4 separate regions of the Homo sapiens genome follow, and regions 1, 2 and 4 are each linked to region 3. The links come from fine-mapping of genetic effects on gene expression. A gene starts in region 3. Each other region holds a variant in brackets. All regions are shown on one strand. Distances are between the middles of the regions. Region 1 overlaps VAPB (VAMP associated protein B and C). Region 2 overlaps VAPB (VAMP associated protein B and C). Region 3 holds the start of VAPB (VAMP associated protein B and C). Region 4 overlaps VAPB (VAMP associated protein B and C).

Region 1 (5,711 bases), 25 kb before region 3:
AGTCCTTTACTCTTGTCTTTGCATTTGCAAGGAAACAGGAAGTGAAGGTGGGGAAAGGGTGTGCGCTTATGTGTTCACAAACAAATACGTAATGTTGACTCAACAAAATCATTCAAATGTGTGTTTTGAAAAACTTTTCAATGAGACTCTAAGCTCCTGAGACAAGGATTATACCTTATCCATCTCTGTAGCCCCAGCACTGTGGCTGGCATAGAATAAAGATCTCAATCTACATATTCACCAAGAAGAAAACTACCTGTGTGTGGATTATCTCCAGCAAAATTAAGATCCTCAGGCTGGTGTCTCTACTCTTGAGGTGCTCCGGGCATGGAAAAAAAAAAAATCAATCTGATATGGGCTTACCTTAATACAAATTAAGAAATCAAAATGGTGATAAGGAAGGAAGGAAATGGGACTCAATCCCAAAATCAAACGACAGCTAGTTCTGCTATGAGACTTATTTTGAAAACATAAATTTGATCCAACGTTACTCATGTGCATATTAGAGGGACATTCTGGACATAAAACAATTTTCGTATTTGTTTCTGTGTGATTTTGTCTGCTATCAACACTGGTGAACACAGAAAACTGCTCCTCGCTGAACCCAACTGCAAAGAAATACAGAAAACTCACAAGCACACACACCTCAACCACCTACGGGATACCTCAGTTCACCCTCTCCCCCTTATGAAGTTGTGGTGTGAGGATCCCAAATTTAAGTATTTGTTTATTCCTTACACTGACCTCTTCTTCAAGGTACTCTACAAAAATAAGCCAAATTTAAATGTAAACACTTAACTGTTTTTGAAAATTTCCCCAGGTTAATCTATTACATCACAGTTAATTGCTATTACACAGCAATCTTAATGGTGCTTCAACTTATATAAACCACATAAAAGGAAGTCTAAACTATTAAAAGACAAGCAATATTTGTAATAATAAACAGGATAAAATAAACATCCCAGATTTCTCCCTCCACAATCCTGGGTCTTTACATGCTTGGGATTTCTTGGCCTTTCACAGGCTTTTATTTGTAAAAATCTGGAGGGAACTATACTGAAAATATATGCAATGAAACAACATCACTGGTAAAATAACAAAGTCCCGTGGGTAAAAATCAAGATATTTGTAAGAACAGGCCAACCTTCCTCTCCCTACTCTGGGCAATTTGCTCCAAGAATTTTATTGAAAATAAATTATATTCTATTTGAGTAATTATAGAAAATAAACCATGTTAGTGTTCTCCTTTTCCCCTGTATTAATGGATTAGCATACACAAAACCTTCAATAAAAATGATGTAAAAGCTTATGAGCATCATTCAGACTTTTACTAGTCACTTTCATTTCATAAAACTGCCATTTCCATTAAAGCATTATGTAAAAAATGGGATTTTACTATACCAACATGCATATTTACCACCAATGAATTTAAACACTGCTTATAAAGTACAGTCAATTTTACAAATGAAATCTCCTTCTAAACTTAGAATTTTTCCTTTTTAGAGATAAAAAAAAATGATGTGTCTCTAGAACCACAGCATACACTTCAAATCATTTTTAATCTTCTATTCCTTATTTCAGATAATGTCTGTAACAAAACCAGGAACTAAGCATCTAAAATGTGAAATGGGAGGTTAAAAAAGTGAAAAAACATGAATTTGGGAGAAACTGGCAATACTCTTTGAAACTGTTACTCTTTTTAATAATGTAAACAATGCCCTTTATGTCCTAGATTATGCATATACTCATCTGTGAACATTTGTGTGAGTTTGCTGAAGATGCTTATGAAACAGCACTAATGAACTGAAAATGAATTCCTTGACATGCTGTAAAAGGTATTTAGATAAAGCTAAACACAGTATAATTTATTTCCTCTACCTTCCCCCAGGACCCACTGTGCTTGGATTTTTGTCATTTTAAATTGTGTTTAAGGCAATAAGAGGTAAGAGTAAGACAGTAAGAGGGGCTAGAATTGATCTGTTTTACAAGGCAAATACAGAGTGCCTGCGATTGCAGGCTCGCGCCGCCACGCCTGACTGGTTTTGGTGGAGACGGGGTTTCGCTGTGTTGGCCAGGCCGGTCTCCAGCCCCTAACCGCAAGTGATCCGCCGGCCTCGGCCTCCCGACGTGCCGGGATTGCAGGCGGAGTCTCGTTCACTCAGTGCTCGGTGGTGCCCAGGCTGGAGTGCAGTGGCGTGATCTCGGCTCGCTACAACCTCCACCTCCCAGCCGCCTGCCTTGGCCTCCCAGAGTGCTGAGATTGCAGCCTCTGCCCGGCCGCCACCCCGTCTGGGAAGTGGGGAGCGTCTCTGCCTGGCCACCCATCGTCTGGGATGTGGGGAGCCCCTCTGCCTGGCTGCCCAGTCTGGGAGGTGAGGAGCGTCTCCGACCGGCCGCCATCCCATCTAGGAGGTGAGGAGCGCCTCTTTCCGGCCGCCATCACATCTAGGAAGTGAGGAGCGTCTCTGCCCGGCCGCCCATCGTCTGAGATGTGGGGAGCGCCTCTGCCCCGCCGCCCCGTCTGGGATGTGAGGAGCGCCTCTGCCCGGCCACGACCCCGTCTGGGAGGTGAGGAGCATCTCTGCCCCACCGCCC[C/T]GTCTGAGAGGTGAGGAGACCCTCTGCCCGGCAACCGCCCCGTCTGAGGAGTGGGGAGACCCTCCGCCCGGCGGCTGCCCCGTCTGAGGGGTGGGGAGCCTCTCCGCCCGGCGGCCACCCCGTCTGGGAGGTGGGGGGCGTCTCCGCCCGGCGGCCGCCCCGTCCGGGAGGGAGGTGGGGGGGGTCAGCCCCCCGCCAGGCCAGCAGCCCCATCCGGGAGGGAGGTGGGGGGGTCAGCCCCACGCCCCGCCAGCCGCCCCGTCCAGGAGGGAGGTTGGGGGGTCAGCCCCCCGCCCGGCCAGCCGCCCCGTCAGGGAGGGAGGTGGGGGGTCAGCCCCCCGCCCGGCCAGCCGCCCCGTCCGGGAGGGAGGTCGGGGCGTCAGCCTCCCGCCCGGCCAGCCGCCCCGTCCGGGAGGTGAGGGGCGCCTCTGCCTGGCCGCCCCTACTGGGAAGTGAGGAGCCCCTCTGCCAGGCCAGCCGCCCTATCTGGGAGGGAGGTGGCGGGGTCAGCCCCCCGCCCGGCCAGCTGCCCCGTCCGGGAGGGAGGTGGGGAGGTCAGCCCCCCACCCGGCCAGCCGCCCCATCCGGGAGGTGAGGGGCGCCTCTGCCCGGCCGCCCCTACTGGGAAGTGAGGAGCCCCTCTGCCAGGCCAGCCGCCCTATCTGGGAGGGAGGTGGCGGGGTCAGCCCCCCGCCCGGCCAGCTGCCCCGTCCGGGAGGGAGGTGGGGAGGTCAGCCCCCCGCCCGGCCAGCGGCCCCACCCGGGAGGTGACGGGCGCCTCTGCCCGGCCGCCCCTACTGGGAAGTGAGGAGCCCCTCTGCCTGGCCACCACCCCGTCTGGGAGGTGTGCCCAACAGCTCATTGAGAACGGGCCAGGATGACAATGGCGGCTTTGTGGAATAGAAAGGCGGGAAAGGTGGGGAAAAGATTGAGAAATCGGATGGTTGCCATGTCTGTGTAGAAAGAAGTAGACATGGGAGACTTTTCATTTTGTTCTGTACTAAGAAAACTTCTGCCTTGGGATCCTGTTGATCGGTGACCTTACCCCCAACCCTGTGCTCTCTGAAACATGTGCTGTGTCCACTCAGGGTTAAATGGATTAAGGGCGGTGCAAGATGTGCTTTGTTAAACAGATGCTTGAAGGCAGCATGCTCGTTAAGAGTCATCACCAGTCCCTAATCTCAAGTACCCAGGGACACAAACACTGCGGAAGGCCGCAGGGTCCTCTGCCTAGGAAAACCAGAGACCTTTGTTCACTTGTTTATCTGCTGACCTTCCCTCCACTATTGTCCTATGACCCTGCCAAATCCCCCTCTGTGAGAAACACCCAAGAATTATCAATAAAAAATAAATTAAAAAAAAAAAAAAAAGAAGGCAAATACAATACCAGCAAAAACTTGCATACCATTAAAAGTGAAAGAAGAAATAGTTGCTTTTTACTCTTAATTACAAAAATTGGGCCTTAAGATGTATAAAGTTCTGGTTTGAAGGTCAAAGACCGTCACAATCCAGCACAACATGAAGAGGTCAGGTTCCAGGTGTTGAAAATGTCATAAAAAAATGGCTGAATAAACTTGTCAGGAAACCTAAGAGCATTTTATGGGAAAAGTATTCCATTAAATCTTTAAACAGTCTCCTGATCTACATATGATTTAAATGCTTTTCTGTAATTATTCATTCAAGAGCCATGGAAGAAAAATTAAAACGCTTCCCTTCAGGAAATGTAAATACTATCTTTACAAAAGAATAATTTAAAAGTTCATGTCCCATCAAATTATAAAAAGTAATAATGAAAATTTCCAGTGAACTGAAAACTCAATCTAGGCCTTACCTATCTGTATTACCTCAAGCATAGCATAACATCCTATCTACTAAATGGCAAGATAGAAGTTTTTAAGGAGTAAATATATAATTTTACCTTTTTTTTTTTTTTGAGACAGAGTCTCACTCTGTCACCCAGGCTGGAGTGCAGTGGCACGATCTTGGCTCACTGCAACCTCCACCTCCCAGGTTCAAGCGATTCTCATGCCCCAACCTCCCAAGTAGCTAGGACCACAGGCATATGCCACACCTGGCTAATTTTTGTATTTTTAATAGAGACAGGGTTTTACTACATTGGCTAGGGTGGTCTCAAACTCCTGACCTCAAATGATCCACCCACCTTGGCATCCCAAAGTGCTGGGATTAGAGGTGTGAGCCTCCACGCCCAGCCATAATTTTACTTTTAACTTAGCAATTCTACCAGAAAAATAAAGGCTAAAGTATATTTAGACCCCAAACTATAAAACTCCTACAGGATGACAGAATAAAATCTAGATGGCCTTGGATTTGGAGATGACTACTTACAACACCAAAACAAAATCCATGAAAAAAATAACTGATTAGCTAGACTTCATTAAAAATAAAAACATCTGTTCTGCAGAAGACAAGCCACAAGCCAGGAGAAAATATTTGCTAAAAACATACCTGAATAAAATACTGTCAACCAAACTATACAAAGAACTCTTAAAACTCAATAATATGAAAATGAAGGCTGGGCACAGTGGCTCATGCCTGTAATCCCAGCACTTTGGGAGGCTGTGGCGGGTGGATCACAACGTCAGGAGATCGAGACCATCCTGGCTAACACGGTGAAACCCCGTCTCTACTAAAAATACAAAAAAATTAGCCGGGCGTGGTGGTGGGCACCTGTAGTCCCAGCTACTCTGGAGGCTGAGGCAGGGGAATGGCCTGAACCAGGGAGGCGGAGCTTCCAATGTGCTGAGATCGTGCCACTGCACTCCAGTCTGGGTGACAGAGCGAAAGAGACTCCGTCTCAAAAAATAATAAAAATAAAATAAAATAAAATGAACAACCTAATTTTAAAATGGGCAAAAGATCTGAACAGCCACCTCACCAAAAACGTACAGAAAGCAAATAAACATACGAAAAGATGTCTGGCCGGGTGCGGTGGCTCACGCCTGTAATCAGGAGGCCAAGGCGGGTGGATCAGCTGAGGTCAGGAATTCGAGACCAGCTTGGCCAACATGGTGAAACCCTGTCTCTACTGAAAATACAAAAAGTAGCCAGGTGTGGTGGCCCATGCCTGTAGTCCCAGCTACTGGGGAGGCTGAGGC
Region 2 (5,711 bases), 45 kb before region 3:
GGTATGAAATACCAACTATGGAATATTCTTGCCAAAACACATTTAACTTGAATTTAATCATGAGGAAATAATCAAATAAATCCAGAATACAGGACATTCTGTAAGTCAACTGGCCTGGACTCTTAAAAAAAAAAAGAAGTTCAAAGTTTGGGCAGGGTGCAGTGGCTCACACCTGTAATCCCAGCACTTCGAGAGGCAGAGGCAGGAGGATCACTTGAGCCCAGAAGTTCAAGACCAGCCTGGGCAACATAGTGAGACCCCAACTCTATAAAAAAATAAAAAAATAGCCGGCATGGTGGCATGCCTGTAGTTTTAGTTACTCGAACAGCTGAGGTGGAGGTCAAGCCATGACTGCACCACTGCACTTCAGCCTTGGTGACAAAGCAAGACTTTGTCTCAAAAAAAAAAAAAAAAAAAAAAAAAGTTCAAAGTTTGAAAAACAAAAAGGTTTGGGTGTCCTCTACTAAAGGTCACTTTTGGAACAACTAGGAAATAATGAATATGAATTTATCACATAATAATACTGAATTGAAGTTACTTTTTTCAGCTATGATTAATAGTATCATGACTATATAAGAGACTGTCCTTGCTCTGAAGCATTTAGGGGTGAAGTGTCATAAATTTGCATCTCAAGCAAATAAGAAAGTTTGTGACAGAAAGGAAGCAAATGTCACAACATGTTAACAAATGTAAATCTAGGTAAAAGTTATATGAGTGGTCACCATGCTATTTTTTCAACTTTCTGTATATCACAATAAAAAGAAAAACATTTTAAAATAAAGAAAAAGCAGGCTGGGGCAGTGGCTCATGCCTGTAATCCTACCACTTTGGGAGGCTGAGGTGGGCAGATCGCTTGAGTCCAGGAGTTTGAGACCAGCTTGGGCAACATGGAGAAAACCTGTCTCTACAAAAAAATTAGCCAGGCATGGTGGTGCGCTCCTGTGGTCCCAGCTACTTGGGAGGCTGAGGTGGGAGGATCACTTGAGCCCAGGAGGTGGAGGCTGCAGCGAGCTGAGATCACTCCACTGCATTCCAGCCTAGGTGACACAGTAAAATCATGTCTCCAAAAAAAAAAAAAAAAAAAAAAAGGAAGAAAAACACAAAGCTCTCATTTCTCATTAATGATGGTTAGGCCTAGTAGAAAAGAACTATGGGTCACTTTAAATTTTTTTCATTTGTGTATTTCCAAAATTTCCCACAATGTACATTTTATATAAAAAAAATTTAAACTTATATCATCATACAAGGAACTAAAATGACCCTTTACTAGATATGCAGTGACTGGCCTATTACACACTCTGATAAGCAAGTGTCAGACACTGGACCCACCAGGCACTTACACAGGCACACTTCATACTCACCACTGTGTGAGCTGCATTTTTATCCCTATTTTACAAATGATCAAAACCTCAACAGAGTTAATAAAACCTGCTCCCAGCCACAACGTCAGTAAAAGGAAGAACTCAGCTCGAAAACACCCAAGCCCATGCTCTTTTCACTATGCCATGCAGCAGAAGCCAAACAGAACACACCCTTGGATCTTCCATTATTTTCTATCTGCCATGTTTCTTTGATCACACAAATTAACATGAAGTAACACATCATGTTGCAGAAAATCAGAGAAAGTTTTCATAAGAATTGTTCTTATGAAAAGAAGACAGCCTATTATCACTGATCTCTCTAAAAGTCAAAAATATCTGGCCTCCTCCTTCATTTTCTGCCTACAAGTGAAACATCAGCGGAGATGCTTCTCCAGAACTTAAACAAAAGGCTATGTGGTGACATAGGGCATGGGGTGGTCTTGGCCTGAGTTGCCCTTGGTATGAAACTCAGACAGAGGAGAACTGCAGTATGGTGTGATGAACAGCGGACTCAGGTGGGCAGACCTGCCGTGGATGACTCGGGGCTCCCCTTTGGGCGGGCCAAAACTGGAGAGCAATGCAAGTGGTATGAGGCAACCCTGTCCTGCTTTCCTGAACTGTAAGGACAAGCGCATCTGTCCCTGCTGGGGCTGTGGGTTGTATTGTAGATTTCAATTCAACTCCCAGCCCCAGAATGCCAATGGACTTATTCAAATGTATAAAAAGCTCGTTTTGGAGGGAATGTCCATTATACTCTTTTTTTTTTTTCCAAAACCATCACTAACATCACTTATTTCTTTTATAAAAATGAAGTCATCTTAATTTTATCAAAATTAGAGAAAAGTTAAACATAGATTTAAGCAGGGGGGAAAATAAATAAGCATATTTACTAGAACAAAGCCACAAACATGTATGTCTAAATGGGTGAGGACATTCAGCACTGACACTCTCACATGGCTCTTGAGTTTGTGGGGGATGAGAAGACAAGTAAGAAAAAGGCGGGACAATGAAAAGTATCCTTTTCTGTCGGGGCAGAAAGGAGAGGCGAAAGAAGGCAATCCCTAACCATGCAAGACACCATCCACCAGTGCAAGGAGCTGCTGAAGCACACTGAGCTCAGGAAAGTCAGAAAAGAACAGCCTTCTAGAAAGTCACAAAAAATGTTAAAATTATTCCTCAAAGTTTTAGAAAAACCATAAAGGTAGATAAAGTACAAACCTCCTTGAAAAAAAACTATTCCCTTTTAAATAATTTTGACATATTTTGAAATGCATGCACCCACAATTCCATATCTAATTGGTTTTTTAAATTATTGTTACTGAAAAAAATAAGAAGCATTCAGTACTTACTACTGCTTCCATATCTGAAGTGTCAGTTGGAGCAAACATAGACTGAACCATAAACTTGTGTTTACTTTTCTCATTGGGATCATAATCGAAAGGCTGTAACATCACTGAGAAAGAAAATATTTCATTAGGAGGGTCAGAGCTTGGTTGTCAGTGCCATTTATTATGCTAATACTTGTACTTTGGTTGTAAAGCAATTTACCGGCATTCTCTTATGTCTTAGGATGGACGCCCCTGGTGAAGTAAGCAAGGATGACCAACATCTCCATTTTGCAGGTCACCAACCTAAGAGCCACAAAATCACGCATGACAGAGCTGGGAATAAGGCCGAGGACCCAGTCTTCTGATTCCTAGTCCATGGATCTTTCACTACTGCAAGCCTACCGTAAATGTCTGCTACAGGCCTTACAGAATTGGGAAACTGGGTAGCAACACCATCTGCCTGTTTTGCTCAAGAAAACATATCCAAATGATCTCTTCAGGAATTAAATAGAATAATCTAAGATGTTTAAGAACATTTAAGGAACTGTTGTAGCTTCTCTCCAACCCATTTCTCATATAGCTAATCAAGGTAATCCTTGAAATACAATTTTGCCAA[C/T]ATAAAGCTAGAAAATTTTTACAATCAGGACACTCACACAGCAGGGAAAACGGTATCAGCTTATACTCCCCCTTTTTTTTCCCTAAGAACCTAGAGAAATCTCACACAGAGGATCCTGTGGATGAGTCACACCCACTGCATGGAGGGAGGTGCCTTCCTACCCCAAGTGGCTCCCTTCAGCCTACTTCCTAGAGTACAGCTGGGCCTACTCCTATCAAATGATGGCTGCTTTAAAATATGTTACTTTGCTACAAGGCTTTGGCTAACCCACACATCTAGTTAAGTTCCCTGAGACAACTTCACATGCAGGGAAAGCCTACTGTGGCCTTGACCACAACAGTGGGCATGGACTGAGTATCTCCATGTGCCAGAAACTGGGCTCTGTCCCTTAGGTTTACCATCATCTCATTTAATCCTTAAAAAGTAGGTACTATTGTTGGGGGAGAGGGGCTATTCTGGTGTCTACTTTTCACATGAAAAGAATGAACACAGAGAGGTGAATTTGCCCAAGGTTACACCTTGGTGGAGTGCAGACTCAAACCCAGGCAGTTGGTGTGGGGACCTAAGTTCACAGCCACCACAAAGGACTGGTGCCTTGTCCTCTGACAGTACAAGTCTTATGCTTCTCACCAGCAGGGCTTCTACCACCTTTCTGCTGGGCCCTCATCAGCATTCTCTTGCCTTGAAACCCCAACTTAGGACTTCCCAGGTGCTTCCTCTAGAGCCACACAATCAACCACAGCCAGCAGCAGATAGAAAGCAGGATAGCCGTGGTCTACAAATGAAGAATCTGGGATTCCACAAAGTGAAGTGGCTCCCTCAAAGTCACAATGTTAAGAAGTGGCAACACTGGGACAAAGAGCCAAGACTTGACTACAAGTGCAGTCTAGCACCCCTTTCACCACACTAGTCACTCCAATATGAGCTAGATTTATATCTGGCACCCAGGCCCCACGACAAAGCTAATGGAACCATTCACAAAACAGGATAGAAATACCAACCTCCCCCATCCATCTTAGGGATGCAGTAGCACTCTTCACCATGGGAACAGAGAAAGTCCACTGAGACCTAACCATGCATTGGACTTAAATGCACTGGTGTCCCTAGTCACCCAGACAGCTTCACTGCCCACAAGACCCACCTGAAGGCCCTGAGCTACAAGGAAGCCTTGCTGGGAGACTTCTTCAGGACAAAATTCAATAACTGTCAGAGAGTAAACCTTTTATCAACATAACTCTTTCTCTGGCATCACTGAGCTGGCAAGAGCTGACCTTTCCTACAGACAGACCTGGAACATTTACCGACCTGGGCTTGACACTTAACCTCAGGGACAAATGACCAGACTGGCAGGTCAATGCTTTTTCTGAAAGCCAAATTCCCAATGTGTTTTTTTCCTGCCCCTAAGATTGCAATAACGAAAACACACATTTTAAAGTAAAGAGCCAATGTCTTTACATGCTCTGTGAACCTTCCTGGACAGGGACTGTCAACCTTCTTTGGAGCTGGGATTCACTGTTAGATTAATGTTCCCTTTCTAAAATTAAAGTGAATTCAGTTTTAAGAATTTCAGGTCTTCCTTGGCTGTGACAAAATCATGCTCTGGTATTTTTCAGTTTAGGAAAGAAGAGAACTTTGACCTGAACTACTCTTAGATTTTTGGCAGGGCACAGATCTAGTAGTAAACACCGTCTTACCCTTGAGACTCTGTTCTCCCAGCTGTGAACAGCTATTGCACCACTCCCAAGTCTACCACTCTGGAGAGCTCTGAGGAGGAACAAGGTTTATTTGTAAAGATCCCTGATGCTCACATGACAGCAATCCAAGGAAAATGCTAATTTTTAGAGAAGCTATTTAGATGAAATACAAAAACCAATGGGTCCAGAGAACAGAACACACCCCCAAAAAACAGCCCCAGGAAGCTCTGCCTGCCCCTTCCCATTCATCACCTTCCTAGAGGCAGTGGGAGTAAAAAAGTACAGCCAAGAGCACTGTGTCCAGAGCTCTGCCTGGGTTCTAAGAATGCCCCAAGGGAAAACAGGTCCTTCCTTTCCATTTCTCCATCATCCCTCAGCTTCTTCATCCCCAATACTTTCATGATGGCCCAAGAAGGAAAGAAAGGAAAAGAATCTTTACTCATGCCTCCTGTGTAATAGGTACCATAGAAGGCAAATTCTCCTTAGTGCTCCCATTTACTACTCACAACAATCCATCCAAGCAGCACGTCTCCTTTTTCAAGATAAAAAGATAAGGGCTGCCAGGCATGGTGGCTCACAACTGTAACACCAGCACTTTGGGAGGCCAAGGCGGGAGGATCACTTGAGTTCAAGACCAACCTGGGCGACAAAGCAAGACCCCATCTCTACCACAAAAAAATTAGCTGGGCATGGTAGCCTATAGTCCCAGCTA
Region 3 (5,711 bases):
CAGTTTAAAACAAACAAACAACACACCTCATGACGTCATTTAAGAACACACACAGATGTCTCTTCTAAAGTTATGAGCCAGAGGCCTTCAACAATTTGGTACCACTTCTCTTGGACCACTTCCCTAGCAAAAATATCCAGTGACTTTGGCATAATTACTTTGGCCAATCCAGGGCCAGAATGATCGCTATTCTCTGCCACACCTTTCAGGTACAGAAGTGATGAAACCACTTAAGTAGTTAAGTGGTTGTCTAATCTCTGTATAGTACTATGCACTTACAAAGCCACTAACAGCCATGTCATTCCTTCTAAACACGTTCTACAAGAGGCAACGTGGACACGAGCATCATCCCCATTGACCGAATAACCACCCCAGGCTTTGAGGAGTGAAGTGGCCTAAGGTCACACATCTTTCAGTAAAACAATTGAACAAAATCTTAAATTTTCTCAAATGAGTGCCTCTTTCCATAACATATTAGACAACAGAGTTTGTACTGGGATTTGGGGGTTTTCAGAAAGTTAATGCAAGGAAGGACTGCTCAAGGAGAAGCAACACAATTTTAACTTGGACACTGGCTGCATCTATGCATAAAGGGACTGAGATCTGACTCTTGTCTACTCACCAGCCTTGTCTCCCATCTTGCCAGGCAACCACAACAAATGTTCTTTGTTGCTGTCATTCAGAACCACTAGTGGTGGCCGGGCTCACGCCTGTAATCCCAGCACTTTGAGAGGCCAAGGAGGGCGGATCACTTGAGGTCCGGAGTTTGAGACCAGCCTGGCCAACATAGTGAAACACCGTCTCTACTAAAAATACAAAATTTAGCCAGGCGTAGTGGCACATGCCTGTATGTAATCCCAGCTACTCAAGAGGCTGAGGCAGGAGAATCACTTGAACCTGGGAGGCAGAGGCTGCAGTGAGATGGCGCCTCTGCACTCCAGCCTGGGTGACAGAGTGAGAACTCTATCTCAAAAAAAAAAAAACTACTAGTGGCATCCCAAAGGAGCCCAGTCATCTCAGTGTTTGTGCCTCTGTGCATGCAATTTCCTCTGTCTGAAATGTTCCCCACCCTTTCCTTCTTTGAGCCTTCTTCTACTCGACCTTTATAACTGAGCTCAAATGACACCTCTTTCAGGAGTTGACCTCCTCAATGCTCCTGGAGCACTCTGGACTACCCTACATCATTGTCCTGTCCTGGCTGTTATTCTCATCTGCCCCCTTCCCTAAAGTACTGGGAGGAGGTTGAGGGAAAATAGGAGAGTACAGCTGATATAACTTGGCTTCTCTGGGTATCTGACACACAGATCAGGTACTCAGTAAATGTTTGTGGACTAACCGAATGAACCCACCAATTATCAGGAGAAGCCAAGCCAGGCCTCCCAGATAGAGAAAGAACTTCAGACAACTCAAGTGGAAACTAAGGCTCACTATTTTCACTTTAGCTACCTGGACTTCTTTCCCAATCTGGCATCCCCAGAAGGCCATGAGAACATCATGAAAGCTCAAGTACTATCCTGGAATTACAATCCACGGTAGGTTTGGTGGGGTTTTTCGGTTTTTTCATTTTAATTGGAAAGCCTTTGGTTCTCTGTAAATTCAGAGTTATTTCACATTGTTAACTTGGAAGGCAAAGTGACAGCCACCGTTCTGGAGTATTTCCCAGCGATCAGACAGCAAAACGGTTAAGAGCGTGAACTCTGAAGTCTGGGTTCAAATGTACCATTTGCCAACTGGGTAACTTTGGGTAAGTTACCCTACACTACTTCCCAATAGGACATATAAACTGGAGAGCCTCTGGCCATTCATTCATTCATAAATACCAACTGAGCATCTACTGTGAGTCCGGTGCTAGCGATATAGTGGAGACCCGGCCTTCCAATCTAAAGTACGCTTCCATGGAGTCAGACTGTTCCATTTCCTACACAGCACTTAGCACTATCTGCAATGATCTTGTGTGTTGGTTTGTCTGTCCTCGTCGGAAGGTAAGCTCTGTGAGAGCAGAGGCCTTATCTGTCTTGTGCATCCATCACCTCCCCAGAGCCTCCCACATCACTGGATACACGCAAAAAGAAAGAATGAGCATGTCAGACAAGAACTTTTACCTCGTGGCCCTGGTGAAGGTAGGAAAAAAAAAAAAAAAACAAAAGTAACAACATAGAAAACATAAAGGCACAAATTACAGAGGTAATAGTATCTGGGAGAAACCAGGGTCATGGCTTCCCATCGCCGCAGGTGTTGCTCCAGACAGCTCTGCGGAGAAAAAGGATCCCAGCACCGTGGCAGCCTCCTTGCACCGCAACCAGGAGACAGCATGAGGGACGCAGTGAAAGGAAAATGGGCCCAATCCCATCAGAAGTCCTGAGGAGGTTCATTTGTTGGTTCAACATGTTCATCTGTTGGTTCAACAGGTATTTATTTACTAGGCGTATAATGTGTGCTGGGTACACAGCAGCGAACTGACAAGAGCCTGTCCTCATGCAGTTTCCCTTCTAGTATTGAAACAGTGATTTTGGGTATGAAAAGTGCCGTGCTGACCACGAAACAGTGACGGAATAGGGAATGACAGCAGGTGTGCACGGTGGCTGGGTGGTCACAGCAGGCCTCTCTGAGCAGCTGACACCTCAACTAAGCCCTGAGGTCAACACTGTCACGGAGCAGGGGAAGAAACTTCTAGGCAAAGGCAGCGGCGGAGGCTCACACTAGAGAGGATCACAAACTGGTAAGTTACAAAGTGACAAGTGCCTCGAAGGCAAGTCCCAGGAGGCTGGGGGTCGGGGAGGAGGCGCAGGCCCCGGCTCCCGCACCAGCCCTCTCGGGTCCCGGCCACTCCGGGCAGTTCTGGGGAGCGCGGCGAGCGCCAAGGCCCGGCCCGGCCTCGCCGCCCCCCGCGACAGCGCCGTCGGGGTGGGGACGAGGGCCGACGTCACCCGCCGCGCCGGGCTCCGTCCTTCCAGCACTGGGGCGGAGGCCGCGGGCAGGAAGGTGGCGGCCTCTGGGGCTTACCTCGGAATTTGAGCTCGTGCTGCGGCTCGAGGCTCAGGACCTGCTCCACCTTCGCCATGTTCCTTAGCGGCGGAGCACCTTTGGCGGGGAGACCCCTGAGAGGTCACCGGGGCGGGAAGCGTTAATGCTGCGCCCGCTTTAAGTTTTACAAAAAGGCGGGGACCGGTCGGGGCACGGGCGGGGGTCCTCTACCGGGTGGGCGCGCTGGGGGGGGGTCGGTCTACGCGGTGCAGGCGCAGGGGCGGAGGGCGAGGGCGAGGCCGCGGTGCCCGGCGAGCTGACGGCACGCACGCACGCACGCACGCACGCAGAGTCGTACACACGCACGCACGCAGCAGGCTGGCCCGCTCTGGCGGCGGGAAGCTGCGCCCTGCGCCGCCGGCTCCAGGGGCGGGGACTAAAGCTGCGCGCGTAGAGCCCCTTCCGGGACAGTGCGCAGGCGCGGCACAAGCCACGGGGGCGGGACTGCGGGGCAGTAAGGGGCGGGGCTTCGGGCCGCTCAGGAGGCGGGGTCTGTAGTCCAGCTACGACAGCCACCGCGGAAACTATTAAGGGCCCGCTGGGGGCCAGCTTCGTGTTAAGTGCTTTATTCAATAATAACAATTAGAATAAACTTCCACTTTTCTCTTGCTTATGTAGTGCCAGGCACTGTTAGAGACTTTGAATAATAGTGAAAGTACTTAGTATAAGTATAATGTTTATGGGTGAGTGATATGGGCTAGGCACTGTGACGTCTTGTAAATAATAATTATAAATATAATAAACTACCAATTATTGCTTATTTATTTTGTATCACTCTACTGAATGCTTCCAATAACAACAGCAACTACAATAAATACAAGCTACTCTACGTTAAATGTTTACTATGCAACTGGCACTGTGCTGAATTCTTTACTAGTAAATTCTATTTGTTTATGCAACAAATATTTAGAAATACAATGATCAGAAAAGCGAACCTGATTCCAATCCTTTTACTATAGCCTAGTGAAGAGACATCTTTTGAATAAATAACCACACACGTAAGTTAAATAATTAAAAATTGCTGGAGAATCCAGATCTGCTTGACCTCAAAAGTGGATACTCTACATCATGATTACCGTTTAAATTGTATTTCATTATATTATGTTTACTATGGAAGTTAAATAGGTGTTCTTAATAGTCTCCTATACATACCCATATAGGTGAGACAAATGTGGCAAATTGCTAGCAATGGCTGACTCTACATCGCAGGTATATGGTTTTCTTGTACTGTTTCTCCCACTTTGCTGTATACTTGAAATTTTTCATGATAAAAAGGTTTTTTAAAAGAATAGTCTTTGTATTTTAACTGGAGCATTTAGTCCATTTACATTTATTATATTTACTGATATATCTGGAATTATTTCTACCATTGTATTTTGTTATTTCTATTTGTCCTGCCTGGTTTTTTTCCCCTTTCCTTTCTTCTTTAGGGTTTATTTTTATTCTCATTCTGATTTTCTTCACCTGTATACTCTATTTCTAAGTTTTAGTGGTTACTTCAAACTTTTGGGCATGCATACTTACCTTGTGAAAGTCCAATATCTTTAAATATTTGTAAAAATGTCTTTACCCTGTTTCCTTAAAATATAAAGACTTTGGAGTACTTTAATCACCCATCCTCTAAATTATACACCTTAATGTAGTGTATGTTAAGTTTAACCTTTGCCACTGTAACCCCAAGAGACATTACTAAATTGTTTTATTCAGTCAACATTAGTTTAGATTCAGCCACACAATTACCATTTTTATCCACCTTTTCTTCTTGCATCTCAGCTTTCACCAACAGGATCACTCTCCTTTTGCCTGAGGTAAATCCTTTAAATTTTATTTTTTTGTAGCTTCGTTGGTGCAAATCCTCTCAGTTTCTGCTCATCTGCAAATGGATTCATTTTTGCCTTTTGTTGTTTTTATTTTATTTATTTATTTATTTGGAGATGAGGTCTTGCTCTGTTGCCCATGCTGGAGTGCAGTGGCATGATCGTGGCTCACTGCAACCTGTATCTCCCAGGCTGAAACAATCCTCCCACCTCAGACTCCGGTGTAGCTGGGACTAAAAGCATGCACCACCACGCCCAGCTAATTTTTTTATTTTCTGTAAAATCTCACTATGTTGCCCAGGCTGGTTTCAAACTCCTGGGCTCAAGTGATCCTCCTGCTTCAGCCGCCAAAGTGCTAGGATTACAGGCATGAGCCACTGCGCCTGGCCTTGCCCTTGTTCTTGACAGATATTTTGGCTTGCTTGCTTGAATGACAGCTGTCCTCTCTCAGCACACTTGATTGCCATCCACTGTTTGCCTGTTCCCCCTCATTGCTCCTCAGGAGTCCAGTGACAATCTTAACATCGTTCCTTCATAGGTTGTTGGTCTTTTCTCCCTCTTCTCATGTTCTACAGTTTTACCATGCTGTATCTTTTTTTTTTTTTTTTTTTGAGACGGAGTCTCGCTCTGTCCCCCAGTCTGGAGTGCAGTGACGCCATCTCAGCTCACTGCAACCTCCGCCTCCCATGTTCAAGCGATTCTCCTGCCTCAGCCTCCTGAGTCGCTGGGATTACAGGCACGCACCACCATGCCCAGCTAATTTTTGTGTTTTCAGTAGAGACAGAGTTTTGCCATGTTGGCCAGATGGTCTCAAACTCCTGACCTCAGGTAATCCACCCACCTCGACCTCCCAAAAAGTTGGGATTACAG
Region 4 (5,711 bases), 53 kb before region 3:
CTCCAGCATCCCAATAAACCCCACCTCCACATGACCAGACTCTCCAGAGACAGAGGAGCCCACAGCCCTCCAGCAGCAATACCAGTTCACCCAACAGAGTTCAGCAGCACGCAGCATTAACTGTACTCTTGTGACAATAAGAAAACATGAGATGAAATACATTAAATAAGTTAAATATGCATTAAACATCTCTGAATAACAGTTTGACTTCACTACATGAACCAATACAAATTTAGCTTGGTCCCTTTAAGTGAACAAAGCACTGCCATTTATTTCCAAAGCGCTGGGTCAATCAGTCAACACACGCCTCTCACTTATGACGAGTACGTCTGATGCTGCCACAGTGCAATTCCTTTGGGCTTCTGACTCTGTTCATCAGTCCCAAGGAGCTGATGGCTTGGACAGAACTGAAGACACGGAAAGCAGCCTGGGCCGGGAGTGGGCCACGTGGGGACTACTGTGTGGAGCTGACCGCACTCCCCAGCATGCTGGGCTCCAGCTCCCCAAGGGCCAGCACCAACAGGCGAGGAAGGGTGTCATTTTAAGAGAGGTAATCCAGCATCATGTACCAAGGCCTACCAATGTTTAAAATGACATTTACAATATGCCATTGTGGCATTACTCATGGTTTCCCTTGTCATTAATAAAGATCATTCTTTTCCCCCTCAATCAGTTACTATACATTTTTAACTTTCTAAAAGATCGTTACATTATATTTGTGTGTGTGTATCTGTGTATGTGTGTGCAGGGAGGGGTAATTTAAAGGCAAGACCTGTGAGATGTCATCATACATTAATTTCTTTTTACACATGGTTATGATAAATTTAAATCCCATGATATGGTGGATCCACCAATCCAATTTACCATCCTGTGCATGCTACCTCTACAAGGCAATCTTCCCAATAATTACACCAACGATAAAGAACAAAACCACCAGAGCCAAGAGCCGGGTGCTAAGGCCTTCTTCCTTCCCAGTTGGGGCTAATGCTGAAATGGGGCTGTTGCTCTGCACTGTCTTCCTCATCCGCAGTCCATCTTCTTCCTACGGGAGCAAACGCACATTTCAAAGACAAGCCAAGGCACCAGAAAGGGGAGTCAACTGTACAGCTTAACGGGATGGGCTGTTTATGCCCAGTGTTGGATGACATGATATGGTCCAACCGCATTTTGCAAACGGAGAAACTGCAGGCTACAGAGGGGAAAGGGCTAGCCTGAAGCCACTGAGAAAACAGTCCCCTCTTTTCTTTCATCCATTCCACTTGCTGCTGCTAGTTACAACAGACATCTAAACAGGGTGCTCCTTGGTTTCCCGTGATTTACAGAAAAAAGCACTTAAAAGGGTCAACTGGGCCCTTTGCACCCTCGGCCCCACCCACCTCTATGGCCATGTCTTCCGGATGCTTCTCTTCAACCCCAACCTCTCTGTCCTTCCTGCCTCTAATGAATAGCCTTCCTTGATCAAATCATCGATTTTTAAAATCACAGGCATTTCCCAAGACATAAATATATAAATAAAAGAATCTACAAAGTCAACTGGGCACGGTGGCTCATGCTTGTAATCCCTGTACTTTGGGAGGCTGAGGCGGGTGGATCACCTGAGCTCAGGAGTTCAAGACTACCCCTTGGTCAACATGGTAAAACCTCGTCTCTACTAAAATTACAAAAATTAGCCTGGGGTGACAGAGTGAGACTCCATATTAAAAAAAAAAAAAAAAAAAAACCTAAAAGTGGGACATCTGGAAGCTTTCAAATGCAGAGCTCTGTAGATAGCTGGTACTTAATGAGTTACATCCAGACTGCTGGATCAAATGATATTTGGAATATTAAAATGTGACTGGCCTTCATACACTCATCTCAAATATTTTCTACTTAATGCATAGATTTCTCATTGAAGAAGCAACATTCTTTTTCATACATATAAAGATATTTGACCATATTCCCCACCCTCCCCTTGTCCCCAAACTACATGGAAATGTAAGAAATGAAAAATTTTTTCTTCCTTCACCTCCACTGCCACAACTGCCTTGCACTTTCCTAAGAATCTGCAAGTTACTATGTAGATCTATGATGCCATTTCCATGCTCTCAAAGCCAAGCCCACATCCCTGAAGAGGGACATGCATCAAGCCATTCTATTCTGGCACAGACTCATCTTTGCTGATAGATCTCTTGCTAATTACCTCATCTCCTCATCCTTAAACCCCACACACCAGCTGTACTTTCTTTTCTTCGTTTCCTTCCATTCGCTCCCATCCGCCCGAGTACCTAGTAGGTCCTGGGGACCACAGGCAGATGAGTCCCATGGAGCTGACTCTCCCTGCAATTTGTTGCTATCTCTGTGGGACATTGATCACACTGGCTTGTAATCACTTCTGTCTATGTCTCTCCCTGCTATCCCAACAACAGAGAGCTCCTCAAGGGCAGGGGCTGTTCGTGTTTGAATCCACAGTGCCGGGCACATATTAGACCCTCAGTAAATTTGTTGGCCAGATGACAGAATAAACCAACACAAAACAAGAAGGCAGTGTTTGGCAGGATAAAGAATCTTCTAATGTTGAGATTGGTCTGATCATATTTTAAGGATATTCTGCTCATGGGGCATGGCCCGTATCACTGCACAGTGATAAACAACTGGTGGTGTCCGACTGGCTTAAAAAAAAACCC[G/A]GCAAACTAAACCATTTATTTTATTAGGTTATATAGAAGCTATTTCTACCTATTTACCACTTTAAATAGCACAGAACTCTGTTTCAGAAGAGAAATACACTCGAGAAGCTTCAGGCATAGCTTAGATTTTTAGCCAAAAAGTAGTGTCAGCTTCACAATTTACTACACACTAAAGAAATTACTGACTGAGGCAAATCAAAATCACTGCAAAGGAAGAAGATGATGCCATTTCCCAAATGCTGTCAGTTCTCCTATATCTACCTCACTGTCAGAGTAAAAGAGAAGAAAACTCATACTTTTAAAGCTGGAAGGGGCCTTAGAGGTGTTTAGCAAACAGAGGCCTAAGAGATGCTGTGACCAGCACAGATTCAGAGCTGTTTCATATTGGATGGGAGCAACTTCCACACCACCACAAGCCAAAAGAAGCACCCCCTGCCTCCCCACTTCATCACTCAGTACAATACAACCTTCCATTGCCAATGCCAACTGCCTCATCCAGAAGCTAGAAGCTCAGATTTTCCTTCCATAATCTCCACCTCCTACCCACTGTGAGGCACCCCACCTCCAAGCTCATCACCACATCAATAGTTTGATGAGCCACAACTGCCCAGACCTATTTAGAGTCTTCTAAAATCAGAACTATACTTGCATTAAAACAGAGTATAGGTCAGTATTCACTCTCTGAAAAAAGATTCTCACCCAAGTGGTTTAAAAATGCATATTCAAAATAAAAACTATTTTGGTCTCAACATTTATTTTCAATTTACAATAATGGAGAGTTTGAGTTGTTTGGGGTTTTGTTTATTTTGTTTTTGAGACGAAGTCTAGCTCTGTCACCCAGGCTGGAGGGCAGTGGCACGATCTCAGCTCACTGCAACCTCCGCCTCCTGGGTTCAAGCGATTCTCCTGCCTCAGCCTCCCGAGTGGCTGGAATTACAGGCACCTGCCACCACACCCAACTAATTTTTTGTATTTTTTATTAGAGACGGGGTTTCACTTTGTTGGCCAGGCTGGTCTTGAACGCTTGACCTTGTGATCGGCCCGCCTTGGCCTCCCAAAGTGCTGGGATTACAGGCGTGAGCCACCGCACCCGGCCAAGTTTTTTGTTTTTGTTTTTTTTTTTAAGGGGACAAGAGCTTCAACAGTTGAGAAATTTCTGATCAAGGGACAGTGGTTCTTAATTTAGGCAGATCCAAGGACCCTTTTGAGACTCTCATGAAAGCCATGGAAATTTCTCCCTGGGGAGAAAAAAATAGCCAAATACCAAAAGCAAAAAGAAATCTATATATTCACTGGCTCATCAACTTCCCCACCCAAGAAGCTAGTGAAAACGCCCTTGTTTTCTGTAGATTACCAGAAAATAAACTATTACCTTGAACTGCTTGTTCTCCTCCCGTAGCCTCTGAACTTCACCTTGCAGCCTCTTACATTCTTCCATAACCTTCTTAACTTCGGTGTCATCCAAAGAAGAACTCAGAGACTTAGACACTATTGGTGTTTCTGTCTTTGATGCAGTTGTGGATATAATTTTATTTATTTCTACATCATGCTGTTCAAAAACAAATGAAAGCCTAAGTGTCACCGACCATGTAATAATGGACTTTTTTATGCAAAGTAAAGTAGTTCTCAGCAAACACCAAACGTGGTAGCATTTCATCCACACTGTAAAATGTCACATTTATTTTAAAAATGGATTACTTTATCTGATATCTTAATAATCTAAAGCAACAGGGCCCTAGAAATTATGGATAAGGGCAAATAATGAAGTTCGGCTGAGACTAATACTTCAAAGAAAGAGAAAAAGGGCTGTGTATATTGCACTATCAAATTCCTGCCACGGAAAAATCAGCATACTGTAATTGTGCAAGCTCAGGAATTATTAGCCACAAATTACTGTCACCACAAAGATGTGAACATCCCTAGGATTGCCTTAGTGGGGTTAGGAGGCTTGGGAGAGCATTAGACAGAGGGCGAATTACTTTACCAACTTAGCATTTGGAAGCTGGGATGAAGGTGAAACAAACTCAGTGTCTGCAATGTTTCAATCTTGGGAAGTTACATACTCCCCTTATTTCCCCTGCCAAGATTCAGCTATGATCCCCTCTTGAGATTTACAGGGGATGAGAGCCAGTCAGTGGAGGGAGGGCATGGAAGCACGCAGCTTGTCAGGGAAAGAGTAACTGACGATCATTGGCCTGGAATCTAGCTCTACCCATCATTTTCCAGATGAGAAGAGTAGGCCCTGTGAAGCAAGGCCCCAGGCTACCAAGTCAACCTATCACAGAGCTGAGGCCAGAATACTGCTTTCACAGCTTCCAAACTGACCTTCCTGTGACAGGATGTACACTGGGAAGAGGGAAAAAATGACCACTATCCACTTAAAGAAACAGGGTAATGATAGTGGTAAATGATTCAGCAGAAATAAAATCTCAGGTAGTTTTGACACAAATCAACAGCACTCGCGCAGACCAACATAGATACTGTTAACACAACATTTCAGGGTACTTCTGTTTCCCAACTCCAGCTATTAATGGCTAGGATAGTTTCACATGCTGCATGCTTTCACAGTTTTGGTGTTTTTATAAAAATTAAAATGTTTTCGACTAGGTTGAAGGGAAGTCCAAATTAGCATTTCAGATACAGTCTCCTTTCTTCAACTGGTCACAAGTGAGGATCATGAAAGGTAAAGCGCTCACAGTGGACAGCCTAGAGGATGGGGCTCCTTCCTTCTCCCCACAGGCAACACCGGAATGGGATCACTCTCAATGGGGGTTGATATTGCCCTCCAGGACACATGTGGCAATATCTGGAGACATTTTTAGTTGTCACAACTGGGAAGTACTACCAGTATCAAGAGGGCAGAAGCCAGGGATGCTGCTATTAATAAAACACCCTACAGTACACAGGGCAACCTCCACCACCACCAAGGATTTGCCCCAAATATCAACAGTGTTGAGGCTGAGAAATCCTCATCTAAAAGCAGCCTTTGATTGAAGAGGTAGATAGGGTAAAAGGGGTAGGGAGGCTGACAGGGCACTTTGTAAAACA

The links. PIP is the estimated chance that this variant, and not a neighbour inherited with it, causes the effect. A credible set is the group of variants that fine-mapping cannot tell apart.
Region 1: its variant is the best candidate, but not a certain one, in a credible set for the expression of VAPB in nasal epithelium (TOPMed, PIP 0.71).
Region 2: its variant is the best candidate, but not a certain one, in a credible set for the expression of VAPB in lymphoblastoid cells (GTEx, PIP 0.62).
Region 4: its variant is the best candidate, but not a certain one, in a credible set for the expression of VAPB in sun-exposed skin (GTEx, PIP 0.61).

The regions. Positions count from the first base shown.
Region 1 is chr20:58,411,394-58,417,104 of GRCh38, reverse strand. The region is part of intron 1 of VAPB (VAMP associated protein B and C); the gene reads right to left. Among named protein-coding and RNA genes, the nearest start is that of VAPB, 25 kb to the right of the region's middle. RefSeq lists enhancers at 2,427-3,216, 3,217-4,008. The variant C/T (reference allele first, on the strand shown) is at 2,596.
Region 2 is chr20:58,431,705-58,437,415 of GRCh38, reverse strand. It overlaps VAPB (VAMP associated protein B and C), which reads right to left. Exons shown (of 6, transcript NM_004738.5): 3 at 2,711-2,814. Among named protein-coding and RNA genes, the nearest start is that of VAPB, 45 kb to the right of the region's middle. The variant C/T (reference allele first, on the strand shown) is at 3,306.
Region 3 is chr20:58,386,810-58,392,520 of GRCh38, reverse strand. VAPB (VAMP associated protein B and C) reads right to left here and starts at 3,292. Exons shown (of 6, transcript NM_004738.5): 1 at 3,004-3,292. The coding sequence starts at 3,061. RefSeq lists silencers at 2,764-2,883, 3,144-3,583.
Region 4 is chr20:58,439,408-58,445,118 of GRCh38, reverse strand. VAPB (VAMP associated protein B and C) reads right to left here. Exons shown (of 6, transcript NM_004738.5): 5 at 4,036-4,212; 6 at 1-1,042. The coding sequence ends at 884. Among named protein-coding and RNA genes, the nearest start is that of VAPB, 53 kb to the right of the region's middle. The variant G/A (reference allele first, on the strand shown) is at 2,664.